3 linked regions of the Homo sapiens genome follow. The protein of the gene in region 2 purifies or fractionates together with the protein of the main gene of each other region. This does not show direct contact. Each region holds a gene or a part of one and is shown on either strand. Other genes may lie near its edges. The genes, in order: TMEM106B, SLC2A6 and OPALIN.

Region 1 (3,653 bases), on a different chromosome or scaffold from region 2:
TAGAACTTAATAATTAAAAAAAAAAAAACACGGCATTTTCACATATGCTAATTTACAAAAGAGAAACCAGTCACCTGTATTTCATCTTTAAAGCTGATAAAGGAATGGTCTATTAAACGTGGCAAAAACTGTATTTCCCAAATACAATGAAATCAAAATGTTACATTTATAAAATCTATCAAATCAACTATGTCAACACTTTGCTAGAAGTTATTCAGAGTCATATGCTGAAAAGTAAATTGTAATACCTTTTTTCTTTTTTTAGTTTATTTTACCCTCCTAAAGACATTTTCAAATGCTAAATCATTCTGTATATACAGAATTGCCAGTATTTATTATTGCTATTTTTAGCAGAACCAGAAATGGTAGAGAACGTCAATACAGAAAAGACATACAGAAAGCACACTGACCAGTGTCACATTTAACAAACATCTCTTCTCAATGGGGACAAAGGTGCTGCTTAATAGGATAAAAGAATGAAGTTAAACATTTTTCATATAAATTTATACTCACTGTGATATTTAAATAAATTGTACGCTTCTGAACATCATAACTGACATAGGCTGATTTTACACCAATGTATTTCACGTCGATAGAGCGAGGGAAAAGGAAAAACACAGCCAATCCAGAAAGGAGTAGACAGACAAACACAGAAGCCATCACATACAGCTTTCTGAAAAGGAAAAGAGGGTATTTAAGTACATGTGCATCAGAAATTATATAACACAACATTAGAGAAGGTATGTTCAATTTCCCCCATATATCAGCAGCAACATATATAAGATGCTAAATGTTACCAAATTTTCACATCTGAAAGTATTGGGTATGGTTGAGTCTGAGTCTATTAAGTGTTAAGATGTTCTCTTTAAAAGATGAAATCGGCGGGATGCGGTGGCTCACGCCTGTAATCCCAGCACTTTGAGAGGCTGAGGCGGGCGTATCAAGAGGTCAGGAGTTCGAGACCAGCCTGACCAACACAGTGAAAAACCATCTCTACTAAAAACACAAAAATTAGCCAGGTGTGGTGGTGTGCGCCTGTAATCCCAGCTACTCAGGAGGCTGAGGCAGGAGAATAGTTTGAACCCGGGAGGCAGAGGTTGGAGTGAACTGAGATCGCACCACCGCACTCCTGCCTGGACGAGAGAGCGAGACTCTGTACCAAAAAAAAAAAAAAAAGGAATCACATTTTTGGACACTGAAATTTTGGGCTTAAAAACAATAGAACATTTACTTTTTTGACTGCCAGAGCAGTTTTCACATTAGATTCAAGCTGAGGAGCTTCATACAAACGCACATTTCAAAACTCCCTCTGAATTCACTGAAGCAGAATTTTCACATGTTAAGTTTTGCCATTACATGATCCCCTAAAGTGACTGCTCATCAGAACCATCTTAGAAATAATAATGATGGGGAAGGGAGAGCATTAGGAAAAATAGCTAATCATGCTGAGCTTAATACCTAGGGGATGGGTTGATGGGTACAATAAACCACCATGGCACACATTTACCTATGTAACAAACCTGCACATCCTCCATATTTTTAAAATTAAAAAAAAATGACACAACCACATGGCTCATCAATGATTCTTACTATAATTAGTCTTTTTTTGAGTATTCTCATCTCAAAGTACTTACATACTCAGTTTTTAAGATTTTTTTTACATTGATCAACTCTGCTTTGAAGGTGTTGTTACATTTCTTTTTCTAATCAAGAAAAGATATTTCATGCAGGTATAAGACAAGGAAAAATTTGTAGGTAAAAACTTCCTCTTTTCAAGGTTAACCTCAAAACCAGAGTTCAAATAACTATTTCCTGTTCTCTCTAACATACAAGTCCTCTATTGGATGCCCACAACATCCTTTTTTTGTTTTTGAGTCTTGCATGACAATTACTTATTTTCCTTACAATCTACTTATACAAAAATTTTCCATTTTATTGTTTCTTCCACTCTCCGCCACCATTTCCTTTCTAAATGCTCTGATGGATTTAATCTTTGTATGTATTACAAGAGCAATTAAAGTGCCTCCTGCAGATATTTTATAAATATTTCTTAGTGTTTTAAGTTGCCCAAGTTAAGAACAGAGCAAACTGGTTTATTAAAAAACAAAATAATACAAGCAAACACAAATTTGCTAAGTCACTGCTACTAAGTCCATGCTGTTGTCTTGAGCAATCAAAACAGTTCCCACTCACTCATTTTGGACTCTCTCAACCTGAGTAGGGGTAGTGATCCCCACTGGATTACCTAATAGGAAATTTAAACACGTTTATAGTATCTATAACACACCAAAATACATAAAAAGGCATAAGAAGTGTTTAACATCATCATAATAAAATCTGAACTTTGTTGGATTTTCTACACTTCAGCGTTTTATTTTTAATTACTTATGGGCGGGTGAATCCATCATAATCTAGTCCTTAGGGCTTATAAGTCAGTCCTAGTTGTGAATAAATGAATCATGTTCTAAATTACTCTGTATACCACGTTTGTAGCCATAACGAACATTACTGAACCTGGTGGGACAATAAAACAACATTCCATCTAGTATTTCATTCCAAATTGAAAAGTTGGCTAGTTTACTGACAAAATATATGTCTCCATTACAAAATTAACTAGTAATGATTTTTCTTATGGCTCTAGTGATAGCAACCAAATCCTGGGAGTTATAAGGTGCTAATGAAGTTATGAAAGTTGTGTGGTATATCTGCAATCAAGTTAGAATTCCATTTTTGCCATTTCCTACCTGCAGTATTTAATGCAATTTACTTTTCTTCCTCTTTAAAATCCATGTTTGAGGATTAAATGACATAGCTAAAGTATACAGACAAAAGCAATTGATAAATATAATTTTCTAATAATCTTACAAATCACTCAATTTGTAAAGAAATAAAGACCCAAAGTTGTTCCCAAAATATTATAATTTTATTACAAATTGAGAAACAACAACTGTTCTTGGCCTTGTGTGAGCTCTGAGGACTATTCTCTCTGCTCCTATTGGGTGGTCTTTCCTCAGCCTCAGGTATGTTCCTCACACATATATGTTGATCAGGACACAGCTGCAGGCTTAAGAGCACCCTCTCCAGCTCTCTACCTTCTGGTACTCTGCCCTGCTAACTCTAGTCATTTTGGCTTTCTGGACACCCAGTTCCATCTCCATTGAGGAAGACCACTGAGCTCTGCCTGGGTTGGTTCCTTCCTTGTGCTGCAGGCTGGAACCTTTCTCAGACAGTAAGCTGGTACAATCACAGGGCTTGCTGGTGCAATCATAGGGCTTATCTCCTTTGTTTTTGCTTTCTCAGGAATCACTGCCCTGTGCTGGCTGATGTCCAATGTCTGAAAATATTGTTTACTATATTTGTCCAGTTTTACAGTGATTTCAGGTGGGGTATTTCAGGCATTATTCTATTTGGGTCAAAAGTGGAAAATTCAATTTCTTTGATTTTGTATCTCTTTGGTCTTATTGCTAAAACTCTTGCTCCCTAAGGCATTTACATAATAACTTATTTAAGTATAAAATTTCCAAACTACATCAAAGGTACTCCTAATAATGCAACTATTAAGTACAGTTTAAAATTTGTTGTGATTCTCTTTGCCATTTGGAACACAACTCCCGACATTTATAGTCACAGCACAATGTTTTCAAGTCACTTAA
Region 2 (3,753 bases):
TGCCCAGAAGGCATGGAGGCTGGGAGGCCTTAGTCAGATGGAGGCTCAGCACCAATACAGAGGCATTGGGGCGCCTGGGTGGGAAGGCCTGGCCTTACCGGGATGCAGGCAGCTGTGAGCCCCCCGGCGAAGCCCGTCAGCGTCCTTCCGAGCAGCAGCATCCAGAGGCCGTGCGCACCCGCCATGAGCGCATAGCCGGCCGCCGACGGCACAGCTGAGAACATGATGCTCAGCTTCCGGCCCAGGAGGTCGTTGAGGATCATGGCACTCAGGCCTCCGGCCGCTGCTCCCAGGGTGAACACGGACTGCAGGGGAAGGGGGTGCAGGGCAGATATGTCTGGGCACTTGGCACCCCAATCTCATCAGAGTCCAGGGACAGCTTCTTCCCTAGGCCGACCCCAGGAGCTGGTCAAGCACTTGGCCAAGTCAAGCACTTGAAACAGGGAGCCTCCTGTCTTCAAGGAACAGCCATTTGTTAGGGATGCCCAAACGGGGAATTCTGCTCTAAGGAAGAGGTGCTGCGCCACATATCCACAGTGGTTCTGTCCAGCCTGATGTTTAAATGTCTAATATTTTAATACAGGAGAATTCTGTGACTTGAAGGTACTGGGCTTTAAGATTTGGAGGTTCTTAAGTTCCCTGTACAGCAGCAACTGGGACCCCCTCTGGACTCTGCTAACTGGTAGTGGGACCTGGGCACATTGCCCAGCCTGTCTGCACCTCAGTTTCTTCAGCTGTCTTATGGGGAGAGCGCAAGTTCTACCTCGTGGCGTTGGCCCTGAGAATCAATGAACGTTCAGTGCCCAACACATGCCTGGCACATAGGAAGTGCTCAGTAAACCTTGGGAATTTTTATCTTAACTACTATGTTAACAACTCTACATATGAGGCTATTAAGATTATAATTTTAGACTCTGGGACTCTGGGATCTTCCTCTCCATCAGCCCACAATCTGTCCTGCGGACTCTCCTTGCCCCAGCCAGTGCCTCTCCCCACTGACACCTGATACCCTTGCCCCCATCCAGCCAACTGTGGGTGTGGGGACCCGGGGAAGCCTCAGCCCCACCTAGTATAGACCCTGACAGCCACCTCCCCACCTGCTCCTTCCCTCACCCTCTCCACTGGCTTTCAGTTCCTCATTTCAGAGGAATCCTGTAGCTTTACCCCACCCACTAGTGGCCTGGATGGCTGGGGGAGGGGGGACCAGGGCCCTGGAGGGACCCCCAAGGTGGAGAATTTGGGAGGTTCCTAGCTGGAGATAAGGCTCAGCAGGTCCCTCCTTCCTGCACCCACCCTCCTCCAGAGGATGGTCCTTACCCCAAACCAGGATGCCTGGGATTTGGTCAGATGCAGGTCAGGATCCAAGGAGCGCTCCAGGGCTGGGATGACAGGGGATGTGTAGACCAGGGCATACCCAAAGCTGAAATTGCCGAGCACTGCGGCGAAGGTGGCCAGGAACACCCTTTTGTTCTGCAGGGTCCTGGTGATGGTGGCGGACAAAAAGACCAGGGTCTCTGAGTCCCTCCTCCAGGGACCATTGCCTTTTCTGAACCCAGTGGCTGCCCGGCTCAGCGGGCAGTGCTAGGGAGGCCTGGGTCCAAGGCCATTCACGTTCCCAGGGCCTGAGCCCCAGCTCCCCTGGGAAATTCCCAGGCCATTGTTAGCTCATCCGCAGTGGCTGAGCCTCTGGTGCTGGGGCCTTTTCTCCGGAAGAGGAGGCTCTGGTTCTGCCCCCAGGGCGGCGGCTGGAGGCTTGCTGTGTGACCTCAGGCAGAACCCCTGCTCGCTGGGGCCTCAGTCTCACTGTCTGTGGCAGTGGGGGGCTGGGCCCGGTACTCTCGTGGATCGTTCCTTCCCTTAGGGGGACCAGTTCCTTAAATAGGAGTAGCGTGTCTGGGACAGGAGGGAGCCAGATGGCCCCTCGGTGGCGACTAGGTCAGGGGAGGCCCAGGGCGGGAGCCTGCCGCCGGCTGGAGGGAACCAGGGCCACCCCCAGGCCCCACCCGCAGCCCCCAACCTAGCGACTCTCACCCGACCCGCGCCCTGTCCCCTGGCGACGGGGGCGGCTTCTCGGGGAAGGTGTCGTAGTCCGGGCCCTCGGCTCCCAGCAGCGGCTCCTGCATGGCCGGGTCTCTCTCGGGGCGAGCGGAGGGCGCTCAGACTGGAGCAGCCGCCCGGGGCCAGCAGCTCCGAGGGCACCGGCCAGGCTCCGCCCCTTGGCCGCTATTGGCTGTGGGACGGCCCTGCAGAGACACGCCGGCCAATGGGGCGGCCGCAGGCTGTCCTGATGCTCGGATGCGGACCCGGCTTCCCCGGGCGCGGCCGGCACCGCGTGCGCCCCCGAAGGTCACGCCCCAAGACAGGATGGGGGTCCCAGGGCGGAGCCCCTGCTGGATCGTCCGGGGCCCCCGCGGAGCGCCGGAAGCGGCTCACCCGGCCCGGCTCTTGCAGGCGTGACTGCGGCAATGCGCGCAGCCCCTGTCGTACTCGCTCCCGCGGGGTGGAAACCGAGGCCCAGAGAGGCGAAGCCGAGCGCCAGGGTCACAGCGAATGCGCACCTCGCTCCTCCTTACGCTCTAGCCCTCCCCGTCGCGTGGCGTCTCAGGGCCACCTCTGCCCTGGCTCTCCCTGGCACCAGGGAATCGGGGTGTGTCAGGGCAGCAGCGGATGTGCGGGACGAAGGAGGCAGGAGGGGCCGGCGAGGCGCTGTGGGCAGCTCCAGTGGGCGAGGTCTGTATCCTCCACCCCAGGCTCTGGTGGTAGAAATAACCTGAGCTCGTGACACGTAACCCAGGTAGTAAGATAACATTGAAAAATAAGAAAAGCAGAAATGGAAAATTCCCGGGAAGACCGTCCTCAAAAAATCCCACAGCAGTTCCACCTCTCCCTTTGGGCCTTTTCGGGAAGAGGACGGAATCACGCCCTGCTCTGTTGGATGGACGTGCCACACACGCTTTTAAACGGAGCCTTTGTTGCTGAGTATTTGGGTCATTTCCCATTTTAGCTATTAACATGGTAAAGCATTTTTAAAAGTTAGAATTCCCTTTTATTATGATTGAAATACAACCATAATAGAACAATAAAATCACATCCATCTCCCGTCAGCCTGACCTTGATGGCGTTTTAGCCTCTTCCAGTCTTTTCCTCATGTGCCTATTTTGCATATTTGCTATTGGGGCCCCCATTAAACTGTGCAGCCCCTTTACGTCACCGTTTTCTTGCCATCAAGATCATAGGCTTTGGACTCAGGCACACCCTGGTATGGTGATCAGGCTGCACAGTCCTCGTGGCCATATATATACGTATATACATATATATGTGTATGTATTTTTACATATCTATATGTGTATTTTTTTTTTTTTTTTTGAGACGGAGTCTCGCTCTGTTGGCCAGGCTGGAGTGCAGTGGCACGATCTCAGCTTACTGCAACTTCCACCTCCCGAGTTCAAGCGATTCTCCTGCCTCAGCCTCCCAAGTAGCTGGGATTACAGGCATGTGCCACCACGCCCGGCTAATTTTTGTATTTTTAGTGGAGACGGGGTTTCACCATGTTGGCCAGCTTGGTCTTGAACTCCTGACCTTGTGATCCTTCCGCTTCAGCCTCACAAAGTGCTGGGATTACAGGCGTGAGTCACCGCACCCGGCCTTCTCTTTTTTTAAAATGTATTTTTTTTCTTTTAAAATCAACTTTAGGCCAGGTGCAGTGGTGTGTGCCTGTAATCCCAGCATTTAGGAGGCCAAGGTAGGAGAATT
Region 3 (3,653 bases), on a different chromosome or scaffold from region 2:
TGATTCTTCCTACTACCCTTAGAGCACCTTAGGGAAATGCAGGATTAAAGTAGTGTGGGGGTAGGGGTTGGGGAGATTGTGATTAGGTCAAAGGACAACCATTTAAGTACCAAGTTTCAGTGCCTGGTCATCAAAACCTTCTTTTGATGGGAGCTCTCTGGGAAAGAGGTCTGGGCTTGGAAGTCAAACATCCAAGTTCAGATTAGAGTTATGATTATCTGTGAAACCTTGGACAAGCCCCATAACTTCTCTGAGATCTATTACATTTTTTTTTTGTAAAATGGAGTTAATAATTGTCAAAAGTCCAAGCCCCAGGACTCCAGTATACTTGATGAGATTGCTGAGAGTATTAAATAAATAACAGATCTGGACAGAGCTTTGCAAAGTGTAAAGGGCTGACAAGAGTTCATAGTTCTGCTCCTCATTCAATCCTCCTAATAACCCTAGAGGCAGCTACTACTATCCCTGTAGATATTGTGTAGATAGAGACATGCAACCCCTTAGCTTGTAAATTGAGAAATGGCTGTTCTATGGCAGGCAGTGTGAGCCCAGGACCTGTGCTCTTAATCCCACAGCATACCACTTAGTGTAGTTTACATAGTTTCTCATGCAGAACTTTATTCCTTTAGATTTCCTAATCAAGGTAAACTCTTGCCTGAAATATCTTATAAATGAGTGAAATCCAATAACTCATTGGACCAATAACTCAGTGGACCAGAAACATGTAATGCATTCATTTCATGTAGAATTATCCCCAGGAGCATGGATATTTGACAACTTCTGCCATTTGTTTCATCACATACTTGAAAACAAGCAAGGCTTCCTTAAAGAGCCTTGCTTCCACCAGTATTTATATGTGTTTCCCTTCTAGCAATGGGGACAAGTAGGCCCAAAGTGTGCCAGGTGTGCTGACTAGGGACAGGAGGAAGCCCTTTTGAGTTGTAAAATGTGTCACGGTACATCCACAGGGTGAATAATGAAGACATTGCCTGAATTTCCTAATTCTTTTCTCCTTGTAGCCAAATTTTATTCCAATTCTTACCTGGGAAGCAATCAAGTTAGGTTCTGTTTGGTAGTTGTTAACAGAAAGTTTAGCAAAGGGATAAACTTTAGGCTTTATAGCCTAAACTTTGGCAGATTGTCTTGTATAATGTATATTCTATAGACTTTTTGTTCTTTTACAATATATGTTCTTTTTCCATACAGACGTCCTCTCCTGTCACAGGTGGGAAAGAAACGGTAACTATATCACTTAAATTTATAAAATGGGGATAATAATAATGCTCCATCCATCTTGAGCATTTGTTTTGAGCTTTAAAGTTTGATAGGTGAACTGTCACTAAGCACAGAATCTGGCTCAAGAATTATTCTTGACCAGCTCCGCTCAAAAGTGAGGGAGAACATGCAAAATCACAGATGGATTTCACAAAGGGTTGAGCAAAAGAAGCCAGACACAAAGAGTGCATATCTTATATTTGCATCTATATTATGCTGAAAAACAGACAAAACTACTCTATGGCAATAGATTTCAGAATAGTGGTCACGCACAAGGAGGCTGGAAGAGATTTGAGGGGGATCCTGAGATACTGCTAATGTTCTGTTTCTTGATCTGGGTGTTGGTCTTATGGGTGTATTCCTCATGTGAAAAGTCATCCACTTATATATTTGTGATTCATATACTTTATTATTCTTCAATAAAATCAATTTCCCCCTAAAGTGAAGTGAAGGTGAATCCATTATTAAATAACAGTTGCACTTTTATAGGGTTTCTGCAGATTATCTTCAATATTTCCAGATAGTCTGCAAATCTGAAAACTTATGTAACTAAAAGCATGACTATTTCCACTCCGATCAAAGCAAAATGGGAATTTGAAAATTAATAGGTTAATGCATTTATTGCAAATAAATTTTTTTTGAAAGGCTAAATGTCACTTTTTTATTTATTTATTTTTATTATACTTTAAGTTCTAGGGTACATGTGCACAACGTGCAGGTTTGTTACATATGTATACATGTGCCACGTTGGTGTGCTGCACCCATTAACTCGTCATTTACATTAAGTGCAAATAAATTTTTTTAATTCATATTAAAATAGTGTGGTATGGCTGGGCATGGTGGCTCAAACCTGTAATCCCAGCACTTTGGGAGGCCAAGGCAGGCAGATCATGAGGTCAGGAGTTAGAGACCAGCCTGGCCAACATAGTGAAACCCCATCTCTACTAAAAATACAAAAATTAGCTGGGTGTGGTGGCATGCACCTGTAGTCCCAGCTACTCAGGAGGCTGAGGCAGAAGAATCGTTTGAATCCAGGAGGCGGAGGTTGCAGTGAGCCAAGACTGTGCCATTGCACTCCAGCCTGGGCAACAGAGCAAGACTCCATCTCAAACAAAAAAAAAAGTGTGGTGTATAATAAAAGCTTTTATTTTTAGCCAAACAGGTGAAAATGACATCTAATTGTTGCTCTGAATTGTATCTCAGCTTTTCCTACATTGAAGAGACATTTGTATTTCTGTTCTAAAGAATACCTGTTCATATCCTTTGCCCATTTTTCTACTTGATCATTACTCTTTCCAACAGATTTAAACTGTGTAAATTAAGTCCTATGAAAGTAAGTCATTTGTCATGTGTGTTACAAACATTTTTGCACAGTATTTCATTACCCTTTTGATTTTGTATATGACGTTTATGATCCATGCAGATTTTTTGTTTTATTTTTATTCTATTGAATTTTTCCTTTATTATTGAAGACTCTGGGCTTCCTCTGACCCTGTGTTTTTCATTCTGTGCCAGGACTGTGGGCCCTCTCTTGGATTAGCGGCGGGCATACCATTGCTGGTGGCCACAGCCCTGCTGGTGGCTTTACTATTTACTTTGATTCACCGAAGAAGAAGCAGCATTGAGGCCATGGAGGTGATTACTAGCTTCTTTGGGTCCAGATGTATAGGCAGCCACCAGTATTTCAGTGAACTGGCTTTTGGACTAAGGGTGTCAGAATTCAGGGCCCATGTCTATTTCCTGAGGACAAGATGCTGGAAGTTTCTGGGCCATAATTTCCACTGCAGACATGACATTAGGCACCAGACAGAGCTGATTTGTCATAAAACCTTCAGGTCAGTTGAGGAATTCCTGACAAAGATGGTATTTGGGGTAACAAAAAGTAGCAGTGGAGAAGGATGTCTGTTGCCATGGCAAACACATGTCTGTACAGTGGGTGTGCTTTCTAAAGTTGAGAAACAAAAGCGCACAAGCTTCACAAAGAAAGGATGGAGATAACGTTAAGAAAGATAGGAGATGAAGAGGGGCTGAGGTGTCCATGATAGACACCATGATAGAATCACAAGGGAATCTATATCCTCCCCATCCAATCCACCCCTCCAATGCCAGACTGTTCTGGGGACTATGCTTAGAAATCAAAAGCCACCTAGACTCATATCCAACAAGGTTCCATGGTTGTGACACAACTGTGTCATGTGGACTCTGGGTTCTAATTCTATTCTCTATTTATTGACATTCAAGGTTGTTATCATATGGGTAAACATTAATTAAGAGATTGAAAATTGAGGTTCTAAACCTGACTCTGCCACTTTATGATTTATATGATCCTGGACAAGTGACTTAACATTTAATATGTCTTGGTTAGTTCAACTCCAAAA

Evidence for each region.
Region 1: the proteins of SLC2A6 (region 2) and TMEM106B purify together in Homo sapiens (affinity purification with mass spectrometry; one large-scale study listed by BioGRID and IntAct). This does not show direct contact.
Region 3: the proteins of SLC2A6 (region 2) and OPALIN purify together in Homo sapiens (co-immunoprecipitation; one large-scale study listed by IntAct). This does not show direct contact.

The regions. Positions count from the first base shown.
Region 1 is NC_000007.14:12,221,246-12,224,898, reverse strand, and holds part of TMEM106B (transmembrane protein 106B), read right to left. Parts: intron 674-3,653; coding exon 514-673; intron 1-513. UniProt on the Homo sapiens protein: In neurons, involved in the transport of late endosomes/lysosomes. May be involved in dendrite morphogenesis and maintenance by regulating lysosomal trafficking.
Region 2 is NC_000009.12:133,476,937-133,480,689, forward strand, and holds the start of SLC2A6 (solute carrier family 2, facilitated glucose transporter member 6), read right to left. Parts: upstream 2,164-3,753; 5' UTR 2,124-2,163; coding exon 2,032-2,123; intron 1,481-2,031; coding exon 1,318-1,480; intron 306-1,317; coding exon 99-305; intron 1-98. UniProt on the Homo sapiens protein: Probable sugar transporter that acts as a regulator of glycolysis in macrophages. Does not transport glucose.
Region 3 is NC_000010.11:96,348,964-96,352,616, reverse strand, and holds part of OPALIN (opalin), read left to right. Parts: intron 1-1,206; coding exon 1,207-1,239; intron 1,240-2,790; coding exon 2,791-2,910; intron 2,911-3,653. UniProt on the Homo sapiens protein: Central nervous system-specific myelin protein that increase myelin genes expression during oligodendrocyte differentiation. Promotes oligodendrocyte terminal differentiation.